Homo sapiens: one gene and its partner. The protein of the gene in region 1 interacts with the protein of each later gene in a pairwise test. Each region holds a gene or a part of one and is shown on either strand. Other genes may lie near its edges.

Evidence for each region.
Region 2: the proteins of VPS4A (region 1) and ZFYVE19 interact in binary tests that used the Homo sapiens proteins (3 or more experiments, as listed by UniProt).

Annotation. Positions count from the first base shown.
Region 1 is NC_000016.10:69,305,854-69,315,064, reverse strand, and holds the start of VPS4A (vacuolar protein sorting-associated protein 4A), read right to left. Parts: upstream 3,716-9,211; 5' UTR 3,554-3,715; coding exon 3,533-3,553; intron 1-3,532. UniProt on the Homo sapiens protein: Involved in late steps of the endosomal multivesicular bodies (MVB) pathway. Recognizes membrane-associated ESCRT-III assemblies and catalyzes their disassembly, possibly in combination with membrane fission.
Region 2 is NC_000015.10:40,809,819-40,815,584, reverse strand, and holds the end of ZFYVE19 (abscission/NoCut checkpoint regulator), read right to left. Parts: intron 5,734-5,766; coding exon 5,615-5,733; intron 5,515-5,614; coding exon 5,369-5,514; intron 5,198-5,368; coding exon of another isoform or gene 5,115-5,197; exon of another isoform or gene 5,114-5,114; intron 4,937-5,113; coding exon 4,828-4,936; intron 2,887-4,827; coding exon 2,683-2,886; intron 2,248-2,682; coding exon 2,168-2,247; intron 1,873-2,167; coding exon 1,774-1,872; intron 1,643-1,773; coding exon 1,515-1,642; intron 1,438-1,514; coding exon 1,359-1,437; 3' UTR 501-1,358; downstream 1-500. UniProt on the Homo sapiens protein: Key regulator of abscission step in cytokinesis: part of the cytokinesis checkpoint, a process required to delay abscission to prevent both premature resolution of intercellular chromosome bridges and accumulation of DNA damage.

The sequences.
Region 1 (9,211 bases):
ACAGAGTTTCACCATGTTGGCCAGGCTGGTCTCGAACTCCTGACATCAAGTGATCCACCCGCCTTGGCTTCCAAAGTGCTGGGATTACAGAAATGAGCCACCGCGACCGGTCAGTAAAGCACCTACATGGTTTTAAAGCCTGGTTTTAAAAACCGCAGCTTCACCAACGCCTGCACGAAGCATGACCAGAATTCTCCTCCTCAGATCCGGCACCAGTTACCAGGCAGGCAGTCCCACCGCAGACCCACGGTTCCAGGCACAGCAAACAATAAACCTCCTGACCGGCTCTTGGCAGGGCCGGGGCATTTGTTCAGCCCTCTCTTATCTGCAAGGAAGAAGTCTCCGAAAGAAACACACACAGACAGCTCGACAAAACAGACAGGCCAGGGGAGGCTGGGCCAGGCTGATGTGAAATGAACTCAGCGGATTGAAGAGATGAGAAGAGGGGTGAGTGCTGGCCATTATTTTCAAGCCTCTGCTCCCTCTACTACCTACAATGAATGGCTGGGAGCCCCAAACCTTCTTGGAAATGAGCTTAGGCACAGGCTGCCCTTGTCTGCCCTCTTCTGCATGATGTTCCTTCAGATGAGACAGGAAGGCAGCGCTCCTCTCCCTGGTGGCTTCTCGTCTCCAGAACACACACCCCCAGTACCTTGGACTTTTTCACTCTCTGTAGCTTCATGCTTGGGTCTATCCTTAGAACAATACTGAAGGTATTCTTTGTCCCATAAGGAGCAGCACTGACCCATCCCCTCCCTCCTTTTGGAAATTCTAGTAATACACCTAAGAGTGTGCTGGGGCTGGGCACGGTGGCTCATGCCTGTAATCCCAGCACTTTGGGACGCGGAGGCGGGCGGATCACCGGAGGTCAGGAGATTGAGACCATCCTGGCTAACACAGTGAAGCACCATCTCTACTAAAAATACAAAAAGTTAGCCGGGTGTGGTGACGCGTGCCTGTAGTTACGGCTACTTGGGAGGCTGAGGCAGGAGAATTGCTTGAACCCAGGAGGTGGAGGCTGCAGAGAACCGAGATCACACCAGAGCAAGAGTCCATCTCAAAAAAAAAAAAAAAAAAAAGAGTGCACTGGACTTTTCTGGCAGCCACATACAGTTTTTCACACACAGGGGGTCCAAGTTTCAATGGAGAGAAACAGTTTTACAGAACAGGAGGGTAAGGTGAGAAACTGCCAGCCCCGCCGCATCTCTAGTAACACGTATGGCAAAAGATGAGGATGAAAGAAAAGAGTGCTAATGGGGGCTGGCAAATGCTTACTGTAAAGGACCAGATGGTAAATAATTTAGGATTTGCCAGCCAGATAATCTCTGTAGCAACGACTCAACTCTACCTTGATGGCACAAAAGCAGCTGTAGACAGTATATCAATAAACGAACAGGGATGTGTTCCAATAAAACTTTATTTATAGACCCTGAAATGTGAATTTCATAGGATTTTCATGTGTCATGAAATACTGTTTTTCAAGCCATTTAAAAAATGTAAAAACCTATGACATTATGTTAAGTCATAATGAAAGAAGCTAGCCACAAAGGACCACCTATTGTATGACTCTGTTTATATAAAGTGGGTTTCTCTGTAGGCAAACCCACAGAGAAAAAAAGTAGATTAGCAGTGGTTGCCCAGGGCTGGGAGAGAGAGGGGTTGTGGGTGAGGGGTTTCTTTTGGAGGTGATGAAAATATTCTAAAAAGTGATTATGGTGATGGTCACACAACCATGAATATACTAAAAGCACTGAATTATACACTTTAAATGGGTGAGTTGCGCTGGGCACAGTGGCTCACATCTGTAATCCCAGCACTTTGGGCGGCCGAGGTGGGCAGATCACACTTGAAGTCAGGAGTTCGAAACCAGCCTGGCCAACATGGTGAAACCCCGTCTCTACTAAAAATACAAAAAAATATTAGCTGGGTGTGATGGGAGGTGCCTGTAATCCCAGCTACTTGGGAGGCTGAGGCAGGAGAATCACTTGAACCCAGGAGGCGGAGGCCGCAATGAGTTGAGATTGTGCCACTGCACTCCAGCCTGGGTGACAGAATGAGACTGTCTCAAAAAAAAAAATTAATAAAAACAAAAATATATAACGGGTGAGTTATATGGTAAGCACGCAAGTTATACCTTAATAAAGCTGTGTTTAGGCCAGACCCGTGGCTCACACCTGTAATCCCAGCACTCTGGGAGGCCGAAGTGGGCAGATCATCTGAGGTCGGGAGTTCGAGACCAGCCTGGCCAACACGGTGAAACCCGGTCTCTACTAAAAATACAAAAATTAGCCGGGCGTGGTTGCGGGTGCCCGTAATCCCAGCTACTCAGGAGGCTGAGGCAGGAGAATCGCTTGAACCTGAGAGGCAGAGGCTGCAGTGAGCCAAGATCACACCACTGCACTCCAGTCTGGGTGACAGAGTGAGACTCCATCTCAAAAAAATAAATAAATAAAATTTAAAAATAAATAAATACACCTGTGTTTGAAACTGAAAAACATTCTCGGTTCACGGGCCATAAAAAACCTGCCTGGGCAGACGGGATCTGCGGCTTCTGCTGGTGGTACGGTGGGATCTGGCTATGGACTCTTAATTCCTAACCTGGTACCCCAACTCATTCCATGTCTGCTCCTACTTCTGCCCTCCTCCACCTCCAGGTCTCTGAATGCTACTGGAACTCTGATGTCCCTTCTTCCATGAAGTCTTGCCTAACTCTCCCAGGCACTTTGTTGGCTGTCACTTAATGGACACCTACTATGTGCCAGACATACAAGAATGCTTTACCGTAATTATTCAATTTAAAGCTATCATCACAACAACCTAGAGGGCATTACCCCATTTTACAGACCAGGAAACTCGAGACCCGAAGATGAAAAAAAAAAACTAGCCCAAGGTCACTTGCTGGTGAGTGGCAGAGCTGAGATTCAAACCCCGGAATGAGGCCTGAGCATGTTGATCTCTTCTGGCCCCGCAGGACTGACAGCACCTAGAGGGTGGGTCAGTTGTTCACCCAGGTGGCGCCATCCCAGCACCACCCTGCAGGATCTAGGGAATGAATGAAGGGTCGCTGGCCGAGAAGAGGAAGTCGAAGATTGGGGAAGGGGCCGGGGCTTGTTCGAAGTGAGGTCGAGGGACTTCCAGGACCCGGGACAGGAGAGGAGGGAGCGAGACAGGAGAGGAGGGAGCGAGCATCGCTGTCTGAACGCCCAGCCGGACCCCGGGCCGAGCTTCCTGAGGGTGCCTGTGCGGCTCGGGTGAGGCTGATCCCCACGGCGGTACCGGGGCGCCGGCTACACGAAGCGGCCCTGGGGCTGGGCCAGCCGGGCAGGGCCGGAAGGCCTGAGGGTGGAGATGCCACCCGGCTCCGAGCGCGTGGAAACAGACACGGGCGGAAGCGGCGAGGGGGCGGCCGGAGCGGGGTCGCGAGGCCGGGGCTGGGAGGCGCCCACCTGACCACCCGCCCGCCGCCCGGCTCTGCGGCCCGCAGGCCCCGCTGCCTTCGGCCTCCGAAGTCGGGCCGGGCCGCACGAAGTACCTGGAGGGTTGACGTTGTCATTTCATCTCCTGGGTCCGCCCCACACCCCGCGGCGCTGCTTGCGGCCTCGGTCCGGCCCCGGGGAGCCGAGGTACTGGGTCCGGCGCGGGAAGCCCGGCGGTGGGCGCTGAGCGCGGTGCGCGGGCAGGGCGGCCGCTCGCAGCGGGAGCCGAGTCCGAGGGCAAGCGAGGAGCGCAGCCCAGAGCGGTCGGGCCCGAGCCGAGCGGCTGCCCCCTAGCGTCCACGGCTCGCACTGCAGGCACCTCTCCCTGCCTCGGCGAAGGCAGGGGGCGGTTCGAGAGGCAGGACTGACTGGGGACGAGGAGGTGGGACTAGGGCGAGACGGACAGGGGGCGGGGACGGGGTGGGTGGGACAAGGCCGGGGCGGGGCCTGGCGGGACGTACATTCTCGGGGCGGGGCCAGGGGCGGAGCGGGGTAGAATCCGGAAATCCTGACCTCGCTTGGAATAACAGCGCCCATTGAGCAGTTTTATTCTCACAATAAAACGAACTTATCAGAGCGTTGGTTTCTCCATGTTTAATATCGCACGATCATAATTAGTACCTGCCTTGTCTGGCTTTTGTGGGGAATAAATGAGCTAGCTAATGTAAACAGAGTGTGCCCCACACTGGGGCTCAATCCCTGGTGGGATGCCGCTGACTGTTCAAAGCCAGTTTTGTTTTGCTTGGATTGATTGACTGATTGATTGATACGGAGTCTTGCTCTGTCGCCTAGGCTGGAGTGCAGTGGCATGATCTCGGCTCATTGCGACCTCCGCCTCCCGGGTTCAAGCGATTCTCCTGCTTCAGCCTCCCGAGTAGCTGGGATTACAGGCATGCACACCTACTGTGTGCAGCGTTGTGTGCTAGTTTCTGGGGATACAATGATCAAAGCAGTTCTAGGGCTGGGTGTACTGGCCCACGCCTGTAATTCCAGCACTTTGGGAGGCCAAGGCAGGAGGATTGCTTGAGCCGAGGATCAAGACCAGCTTGGGCAACATAGTAAGACCTCGTCGCTAAATTAAGAAACAAAACAAAACAAACAAACAAAAAAACGCACCAGAGGCAAGTGATCCATTTGTCCACAAGTCTATCCTGTGAGAGAAAAAAAATGGAGGGCAAAAAACATCCAAGTTGAGGCTGGGTATGGGGGCTCATGCCTGTAATCCCAACACTTTGGGAAGCCGAGGCAGGCCGATTGCTTGGGCCGAGGAATTCGAGAACAGCCTCGGCAACAGGTGAACCCCCATCGCTACAAAAAATAAAAAACGTATCTGGGCATGGTGGCGCACACCTGTAGTCCCAGCTACTCCGTAAGCTGAGTTGGGAGAATTGCTGGAGCCTGGGAGGTCGAGGCTGTAGTGAGCCGTGACCAGGCCATTGTACTCCACCCTGGGAAATGAAGCAAGACCCTGCCTCCAAAAAAAAAAAAAAAAAAAAAAAAAAAAAAAAAAAAAAAAAACCAAAAAATTGGCACACCTTAATCTCTCTTCACAAAATGCTAATTAAATACAAAGGAGAGGCCGGGCGCGGTGGCTCACGCCTATAATCCCAGTACTTTGGGAGGCCGAGGCAGGTGGATCACTTGAGGTCAGGAGTTCAAGACCAGCCTGGCCAACATGGTGAAACCCTGTCTCTACTAAAAATACAAAATATTCGCCGGCCATGGTGGTGGGCACCTGTAATCCCAGCTACTTGGGAGGCTGAGACAGGAGAATCGCTTGAACCTGGGAGGCGGAGGTTGCAGTGAGCCAAGACCACGCCATTGCACTCCAGCCTGGGCGACAAGAGCGGAACTCCATCTCTAAATAAATAAATAAATACAAAGGAGAAAACAATGAGGACATTAGCTTGACTACGCGACCGAAGGGAACACCCCTGGTGGTGGGATGCGTGGCCCTCGTGTGTCTCTCCACATGATACCCTGAAGAGAGCATGGCATCGTGGCATCTCTGCCAAGAGTGTGTGACACAGCCTGGTTGTGAGGCAACACCGAATAGAGCCAGCTGGAGAGCTGTGCTGAACAATCAAAGCCTTGTGCTGAGACTCAGGCACATGCGAATTAGAGTAAGGCCGAGGAACATTCCAGACTGAAGAACTGAGACACGACGACAAAAGGCAAGAAAGTGGTATTGGCCAGGATCCAAGGCCAGAGAGGAAAACAGGACATGGCCGGGATGGCTGGCATCATTTGAATGGGGTCTATGGAATGAGTGGTGGTGTGCCAATGTTGATTTCTTGATTAGGAGGACTTTATGGTGGCAATGCAAGGACTGTCCTTATGTTTTGGAGGTCCTCACTAGAGAATTTAAGGGTGCTAGAGAATCATATTAGAGAAAGACAAGGTAATGGAATAAATATGGCAAAATGTTAACAACTGGAAGGTTTGGGTGAAGAAGATTTGTATTGTTTTTGTAACTTTCCTGTAGGTTCAAAACTATTTCAGCATTTTAAAAATTGGAAAAAAAAAACAACCCACGTGACTAAAGCAACTTTTTTATTTACAGTATAAAGGTTACAAAGGTATATATGTATTTATATATATAATACCCTTAAGTTACACATTTTCATTGTAATGTACAATGCTGTATGTTGATGTGCTACTCAAGGGGAAGTGTTGTTTATGCATCTATATTTATAGAGTATACATAAAGCTTTTTAAAATTAGGAACACAAATACTGCCCTGTTTTACGCGTTGGGTTTTTGATTTGGTATCCAGAAGATCTGAGACTTAAATTTCAAACAAGACTTAAAAAGAAGGCTTGTTTAAATACAGGGTTCTAAAAAGAAGGAAAAAACCCAGAACATCACATACTTTTAATTATTTGTAAAAGCATTATTCTAGTTTTCTAAGTCTTTATACTTAAAAATGAAAGCAGTGTGGAAAAGAATCCACATAAGCAGGTATCATCAGAGTTTGCACAGATTAGCCAAAACAGGCCTTCAATAGGTAGTGGTTTTCTACATTATCTTCCAAAAGACCTCAGGTTTGGTACCAAAAAGGACAGATTTTTCTGGGCACCAAGGTCTTATAATGCTGCACTCATCCAATGGATTGTAAACATAATACTGGAGTCGTATAGTGGAGGGAAAATTCTGAAACTTGTTCTTACGATAAGGGCAGATTTGCGACAAAGTGAGAATATCATCGAGAATGATGATCATGCCAAACCTGAAACTTAATTGACATCATCATTTCCTCTCCCCCCAATTCTATTAATTCACAAATCGAGGTGAAAAGACACAACTGACACCCGCTTTAACAGGACCCAGATAGAAGGAAAGACATTTCTTCCAACCTAGGAGGAACACACATTTACAATACTTATGTGCTGGTTTTAATAGTATACAATCATTAGCACCTGATTGTCAAAGGGTAGGTTTAAAGAACAAGACACTGAAGGCATGACCTAATTTTTGTGCACAACTCCAAGATACTTGAAAACCAAGGGGAGGGCACCCATGTGATTCGGTTTCCTGTGCCATTCCAATCACTGATAGCTCAGGTACTTTCTGGGCAATGACCAAGGATGTTGCCTGAAAAGCTAACCCTAGAGATAAATGGAAGGCAAGCTGGATAGAAAGGGACTGTTATTGTGTGAAAATTATGGAAAACATTCAGTCAGCCTTATTTTCTTTAGGTGCCCTTTTCATTGAGTCCAAATGCCAGCGTGTCCTGGAATAAGTGAAATTTTGTTAATTTTTATTTTTTAAATGTTAAAAGTTTTTTTTTTTTTTTTAATTTTTTAAATGGAGTCGGGGTCCCGCTGTGTTGCCCAGGCTGGTCTGGACCTCCTGGGCTAAAGTGATCCTCCTGCCTTGGCCTGATTTTGTTAATTTTTAAATATCTTCATTTTGATCTATCATTAATGGAGAAATATTCCGTCTACCATGTATATAAGGACTTTCAGCAGATGAAATGCTTAAATAGTTTAAGGGTGGAAATGAATACAGCAATTAGAAATAAGGGGTTGATAAAATATGCATTTAGTTTTGCTGTTACAGTTAAAGAAGCATTTTTTAAGAAAGACTTTCTCATTTATCTACTTTGTGCAATAAAACTTAATTTTTGTTGTTGTGATTTATCTTACAAAGGATACTGTATACTGTTCTCTTTCCCAAACTAAAGTCTAAATTTGCACTAAAAAAAAAATCATGCATGATGAAAAGACCAGCCTACTTAAATGTGCTTGGAGTCCTTTCATGTTGGCATGGATCAAAGCCTGAGTATCCCTTCAAACATTTTCCAGTTTGCCAGATCCAGATAAACAGACTTGTAAATATACTTTGGTAAAAATATGAAGTGATGAATTACTTAACTGCTGAATGATAAACAGATGGCATGGTGTGCTGAGAAATAACGGATTATGTGCTACTAGAGGGCAGGAACTTTCTTTTGGACCCTTCAGAATGCCTGGTGTAGAACTATACATTAATAAATGTTTATTAGATGAAAGAACACATGAATATGTCATTAATTAGCTTTCCAGTTTCAAAATTAGTGTCAATAGCATGGACGTAAGATTATTGCAAACTGAGAAAGGGACTTAGGGGACTCAGAAATTATAAATCTTTTTCTTCTTTTTCTTTTTTTGGAGATGAAGTCTCGCTCTGTTGCCCAGGCTGGAGTGCAATGGCATGATCTCAGCTCACTGCAACTTCTGCCTCCTGGGTTCAAGGGATTCTCCCACCTCAGCCTCCCGAGTAGCTGGGACCACAGGCGCGCACCACCATGCCCAGCTAACTTTTTGTATTTTTAGTAGAGATGGGGTTTCACCATGTTGGCCAGGCTGGTCTCAAACTCCTTACCTCAGGTGATCCACCCACCTTGGGCTCCCAAAGTACTGGGAATACAGGCATGAGCCACCGCACCCGGCCAGAAATTATAAATCTAACCAGGATTCCCAAACCTACAATACAATGAAATATCATTTCTCTCTTATAGGTTTTTGGTTTTAACCAATCTATTTTAAAAGGGGCAATTCAAGGATTATGGTTTATATGGTGGATTTCTGTTGAATATGATCAAATGTTCACTGGAGAACAAGCAATAATTTGCAAAAGGCATATTTATGCCTTACATTAAATGTGGATCCTCTTCTAAAACTAGAATAAGCATCAGTTCAGTCACCCAACGTGGGAAGAAAGAATAGAGGTGGCAAGAAATGAAGCTCAAGTTTGTTTTGAAACAAAAGAAGAAACTTATTAAAAGATTCTTCTGAGTTACTACATAACAACCATTCTTCTAGTTGGCAGTTTAGCTAGTCAGAGAGACAAAAAAAAACAAAACCAAAACCAAAAACAAAAACAGATGTCCTCTATGTGCCTATTTATTGTGCCTTATCCTTAACTTGAAATTCTATCCTTTAAGAGAATGAATTTGTGTCACTCATCTGCCAGATGTTTTTGTTTTTTTAGAGAAAGGTTTCAAATCAGCCACTTAAGCAGTCTATTACTAGTGTAAAATAAATTCCATTTAACATCACAGCATAGGAATAATGATATTGCTCAAAAATACAGAACCCTGATATATAGCATAATTATTTTAGAACTATCATCACACATTTATCGAGTGTCTATGTATCCAGCACAGTGAAAGATTTAGCTTAAAGGGTGGAGGCGGGCAGATTGCTACAATTGGTTTTTAAAGACAGTATGTGGAAAGTCAGAATAATTTT
Region 2 (5,766 bases), on another chromosome or scaffold:
GGAGGGACATTTGCATACTCCTACTGTCTGTGTGGTCACAGCTAGTTTCTGTCAGCTGGGCTCTCTGGGAGAAAGCTGGCTGTTGTCCAATGCCTTCCTTGGCAGCCAAGTGGATAAAACCTTTAGGAGCCCCAGCTCAATGGAGTGTGGAACATATCTGTGCTGAGGGACAGGGGAGGAGAGAATGAAGTGATACACAGGAAGGCCACAACCTAAGTCACTTGGCTGTGCCCACACACCTCATCCATCCATCCATCCAAAGGACTCAAGAATTCAAAGACGAAAGTCACAGCTCCACTTCAGAGAGATCACAATCTAGCAAGGCCTCGGGGCCAAGCAGACATTATCTGCCTAAGGTACACAGCCTACTGGCATAACCAACAAGAGGGACGCCAATGGCAAAGACTAGTTTCAAATCCCAGAGAGGAAGTAACAGGAAAAACCTAGCTGGATCTGAGAGCCTCAGAAAAGGCTCTTCCAACCAAAAGTGATGCAGGAGGTAGACCTCAGCCCGAGGGCTCTTTATAGTTGGTTCCAGCCAGGGGCAGGAAGAGAAACAGCAGAGGCAATGCAGAGGCATGTAAAGGGTACATGCCGAGAGGTCAGGGGTCCGGTTAGGGCGCATTACTGGAAGAGAGATACTGAGACTGAATGGCAGGCAGGTTGGGACAGGAGCCCTAGGAGCTGGGGTCCTTTGCCAGTAAGGCAGGAAGCAGGGTGTGTGTGCATTGTTCCTGCGTGCATTGTGTGAGTAGTAGAGAGGCTGAGAAATCCAAGATGGTGGGGACTGGTGGCTAAGTGGGGCTGCCCAGAGCTGGAGCACAGTTGAGTTGAATGAATACATGTTTACTTCGTATGAGGCCACCAGGATGGGTAGGGCTGTTCCTGCCTGGAGAAGTTCATAGGATGGCTCAACCTTTTCCCCCATTCCCCACAACTGTGCTTACAGCCTGCTCTGTTCCTGCCACCTCTCACAGGGCCCAGGCTCATAGGGTTGTAGAAATGAGATGCTGGGCCCAATGAATCAACATACTTTATTAGACCCACTAAGTGCCAGGGGAGGGGCCTGTGCCCTAGAGCCAGGTTACAGGGCTCACCCGTAGATTCAGTCTGGTCTCTCCCCATCATGCCTCTCACTTCCAGTCTGGGCTTCTAATAGGAGGGCCCCGACTTCTTCCCTCCCAGTCATTCTCTCGAATGGAGAATCTTTCCTCATTCCAGGGACACCAAGGCTCAGGAAGGGGCCTATCCATCATCAGTAGAGCCAGACAAGCTCTCCCATCGGACGTCCTGTGGCTGGGCCCAGAAATGGGTGCCGCTGCCTGTGGGACTGCCCTTCCGGGAGGACCAGGGTGTCTTCAGTGCTCTTGGCCTGCACGTGGAGGAGAGTAGGCAGATGTCTGGTGCTCTTTAAGCTCAAAGGCATCATGGCCCTCTCTGTGGAACAAAGGGATACAAGTCAGGGATCCAGGCAGCCCTTGAGCTCTCGCACAGAACATTCCACCTGCACCCACCGGAAGCAGCGGGCACAGAAGAGGTCCCCATCGCAGCCAGCGCAGCGTAGGGTGGCATCCTCATTGCAGATGCAGCACCAGGGGAGCTCCTCTTCCTCAGCCTCAGGCCTGGGGTCCACATCCTGGGCCTTCAGGGATCAGAGAGGAATGGAGGAAGTAAGGTACCCAGTGGGGTATGTGAGCTGCTGCAGGAGCAGTCAGCCAGGCAGGAAGCAAGGCTGGGGGGAGCCTGGGGGTCTGCATCTGGGGCTTTTCTCACCTCAGGCTCTGCCCCGCGGGGTTGCGTCCAGGGTCGAGAAGCCTGCTCTGCAGGGATGTTAAAGCCACTTGCCTCATCCAGGGAAGCTTCTTCAGTGAGCTGCGGACAGGGTGAAGATGTACTACTCCCCTGCTTCAGGCCCAGGCCCTCCATCTCCCAGTATTTCTGTGCACTGTGGACTTAGCTTCTCAAACTCATCTTTTTCTTTACTTGTGGCCTGTGGCTGCTGATTCCCTATCTCCAGGGACCAGTGGGCAGGTCTGGGTCTGGGTCACAGGAGGGGGCCCAAAGAGAACAGGAGCTTCACAGTTACTGTCCACCCAGCCCCAGAGTAGAGGTGGGGCAATGAGGCGGAGACGGGACAAGGGGTGGCAGGTGGGTAATCCAGGCCCACCTGCTGCAGGACTCTTTGGATGGCTGTCTCCTCATCCTCGTCGTCATCACTGTCTGGGAGGCGATAGTCCTGGAGGGTCACTTGAAGAGGGAGACATGGGAACAGGGGATGGGGGAGTGAGAGTGAGAGATTTCACATGAGTGGCTGCCCTCCTGCCTCCCAGAACTGGTTCGGTTCCCAGGGGCACTTATTCCAGAGCTGAGAAGCCTCTTCAGCCACCCTGATGACCTGTCCCTGCCTGCCCCAGCCCTGCAGGGCTGGGCCATCACTGAAGCAGGCCTGAGGGCTAGGTTGGGGGCTGGAGCGAAAGCCTCAGCCCCTGAATGGACTGAAGGTCCCCTGCCCTCATGGCTGCCCCTGACTCCTCACCCACTGCTTTGCTCTACCACCTTCCTTGTGGCTCTGGGCTGGGCTCAGTAGATCTCTGGGCGCAAATACCCCCAGCACCTGACTCAGCCCTGCCAGGGAGGCCTTGACCAAGGGATACCAGTGAGCAGCTGCTCCCCAGCCTTCACCTCTCTCGGGGTCCTGTCCCCGCAGCATGGCTAGTCGCTTGGCCAGGGCCAGAATCCGTTCCTGCCTCGTGTTCTCCTCCCGCAACTCAAGTGCTGCCTCAGCCAGCAGTCTGCTCTTCTCCTCCTCCAAGGACCAGTTGGCCTGCCTCTTGGAATTAGTGCTCCCTGGGCCACCCTGGTTGAGATCATTCTGGAGAGAGGCAGCTGGAAGGGGTAATGCCATCAGCAAGGCCGAGACATCCCAGTATCTCTCCTCAGAAGCCAATGAGCCCATTTCTCAACCTTTTCTTTTCTTTTTCTTTAATAATTTTTTCTTTCTTTCTTTCTTTCTTTCTTTCTTTCTTTTTTTTTTTTTTTGAGATGGAGTCTCGCTCTGTCACCCAGGCCGGAGTGCAGTGGTGCAATCTCAGCTCACTGCAACCTCTGCCTCCTGGATTCAAGCGATTCTCCTGCCTCAGCCTCCTGAGTAACTGGGATTACAGGCACGTGACACCATGCCCGGCTAATTTTTGTATTTTTAGTAGAGACGGGGTTTCAACATGTTGGTCAGGCTGGTCTCCAACTCCTGACCTCGTGATCCACCCGCCTCAGCCTCCCAAAGTGCTGGGATTACAGGCGTGAGCCATCATGCCCAGCTTTTCTCAACCCTTTCTAATCACAGATCATCAGCTTTTTGCTCAGCACTAGCGCCTATGGTTTCTATCACAAATAAAATTAGTATTCCTCCATTTTTCCAAATGTAAAAAACTAATAATTTTACCCATGTCTTTTCCAACCACATCCATCCCCATCTACCTGATATTTTAACATTCTGCCCTAAGGGTGGGCGTCCTATGGTTTGAGAATCACTGCCCTAAAGGATCAAGACATGATAAGGCCCAGGTTCAGCCGATCTCTTTGCCTTTCAGGGCAGGAATTAGCATCTCCTGGGATTAGCACAGAGAGGGCAATGAAGGAAGCTAAGAGCTTGTATATCACTGGGCAGGAAGAATTTTACCAGATTAGGTGTGGCTCTGACACAGTCACCTTCAGTTTAGTGTTTCAGAGCAAGAGGTTTAAAATCACAGCTTTAGGTTTAAGTCTCATCTCTGCAGCTTAATAGCTGTGTGACCTTGGTCAAGTTCCTCAAGCTCACCAGGCCTGTTTCCTCATTTATAAAAAAGAATAGTATGTACCTTATAAGATTTTTTTTTTAAACAGAGTCTTGCTATGTTGCCCAGGCAGGTCTTAAATTCCCCAGCTCAAGCTATCCTCCCTCCTGCCTCTGCCTCCTTAAGTGCTTAGGATTACAGGCGTGAGCCACACCTGGCCTCATAAGATTATTGAGGATATTCAATGAGATTGTGCCTCTAAAGCAGGACTTCTCAATCTTAGTTCTCTTGACACTTTGGACCGGGTAATTCTTCATCATGATGTGCTGTCCTGTGACATAGTAGATTTAGTAGCATCCCTGGCTTCTATCCTGTAGGTGCCAGTAATATCCTCTGGGTTGTGACAACCAAAAAGTCTCTAAATGTTGCCACAAGTAGCCTGGGGGCAAAATCATCCTTTGTTGAAAACCACTGCTCTGAAGCCTTCAAACAGCACTGTCCAACAGAATGTTCTATGATGATGGAAACATTCCATATCATGTTCTATATCTGTGCTGTCCAAGATGGTAGCCATGAAGCCCATATGGCTACTGAGCATTGAGATGTGGCTGGTTTTACTAAATAGCTTCTTCCTCCTTATCAACATCATGATTGCAGAGAATATTCACTGAGTACTCACTATGAGTCAGGTATGTTCCCAAGCACTTATTGGATTATCTCGTTTACTCCTCCTGATTTCCCTGTGAGGTAGGTTTTTCCATACATACCTTCATTTTACACATGAGGAAAGTGAGACTTAGGTCAAGTAACTTGTCCAGCATCACACAGCTAATACGTGGTAGAAATGGGAATCACTGTCTGATTCTAAAGCCCGTGCACTTAAACACTAGGCTTACACTGGCTCCCTTTGGAGTAAGCACTCAATGAATGGTAACTCTTATAACGTTGATCACTCTCCGATTTATATTCATCTCCCAGAGGGTGGACAGCAGAGCCTCTCCAGTCTGGGGAAAGAGGTAGGGCAGATTCCTAGGGAGCCAAGTGGAGGGGTTACCTGGGCCTCCTCCTTTCCAGCTTTCATCGATAGCCACCTCAGCTGCCAGCTGCGTTAGCAGATCCTGTGTCTGCTGGGCTTGGGTCCTGGTGTCCGGTGTGTGATGTGCCTGCACAGACGAGGAAACCTCAGTGGAGAGCAGGGGTAGCCCAGAAGCAGTCTAGGTCAGGGATGGATGCTAAGTAGTTCTCAAAGCCCAGGGAAAGGAGAGGGATCCAGGGCCCACATAATCAAGTAGGTCTGGCCGTCCCCAACAGGACTGAGGGGCCACTTTTTCCTGCCCTACCCTATCGTGCTGTTTGTCCCTGGTCCCCGGGTCTGGTAGCAGGCCTGAGGATCAGGAGGTAGGGGTGGGAGGCTTTGCCAACTCCTGCAAAGTACATAAAGTACAAAGGTTGGTGCAAAAGTAACTGAGGTTTTTGCAATTAAAAGTAATGACAAAAACCACAATTACTTTTGTATCACCCCAATACCTGTATCTGGGCTTCTGCTGGGTCCTCCCGCTAGCACCCCCGCTTCTCTCCTAAGCCATAACACTCACCGGCTGGGGGGTTTGAGAAGGTAGAACTCTGCCCTGCAACGCTGCAAGTCGTGCCTCCATTTCCTGGGTGGAAGGGATGGAACCCTGACGTTCATCCTTTAGGGCAGCCAGCCGTGCCTCTATCTCTGCCTGTGAGGGGACTAACTCTGCAATTGGCATGGGGGGAGCCTTGTAAGGGCCAGAGGCATCTCAGTCCCAGAAGCCCTGGACTGTGTCCTCTAGGCAACCCCATCTGCCCCTGCTCACTGGGCTTGTTCTCCTGGCGGAGTCGTGCTAGGCGCTCAGCAATCATCTGGTCTTGTCGTGTCAGTCCCTGGCTCTGGGAAGTGCTGGGCTTTTGCTTGGCTTCCAAGGCTGCCACACGCCTGGCAGGATATGAGATAGAGGCTCTTGAAGAA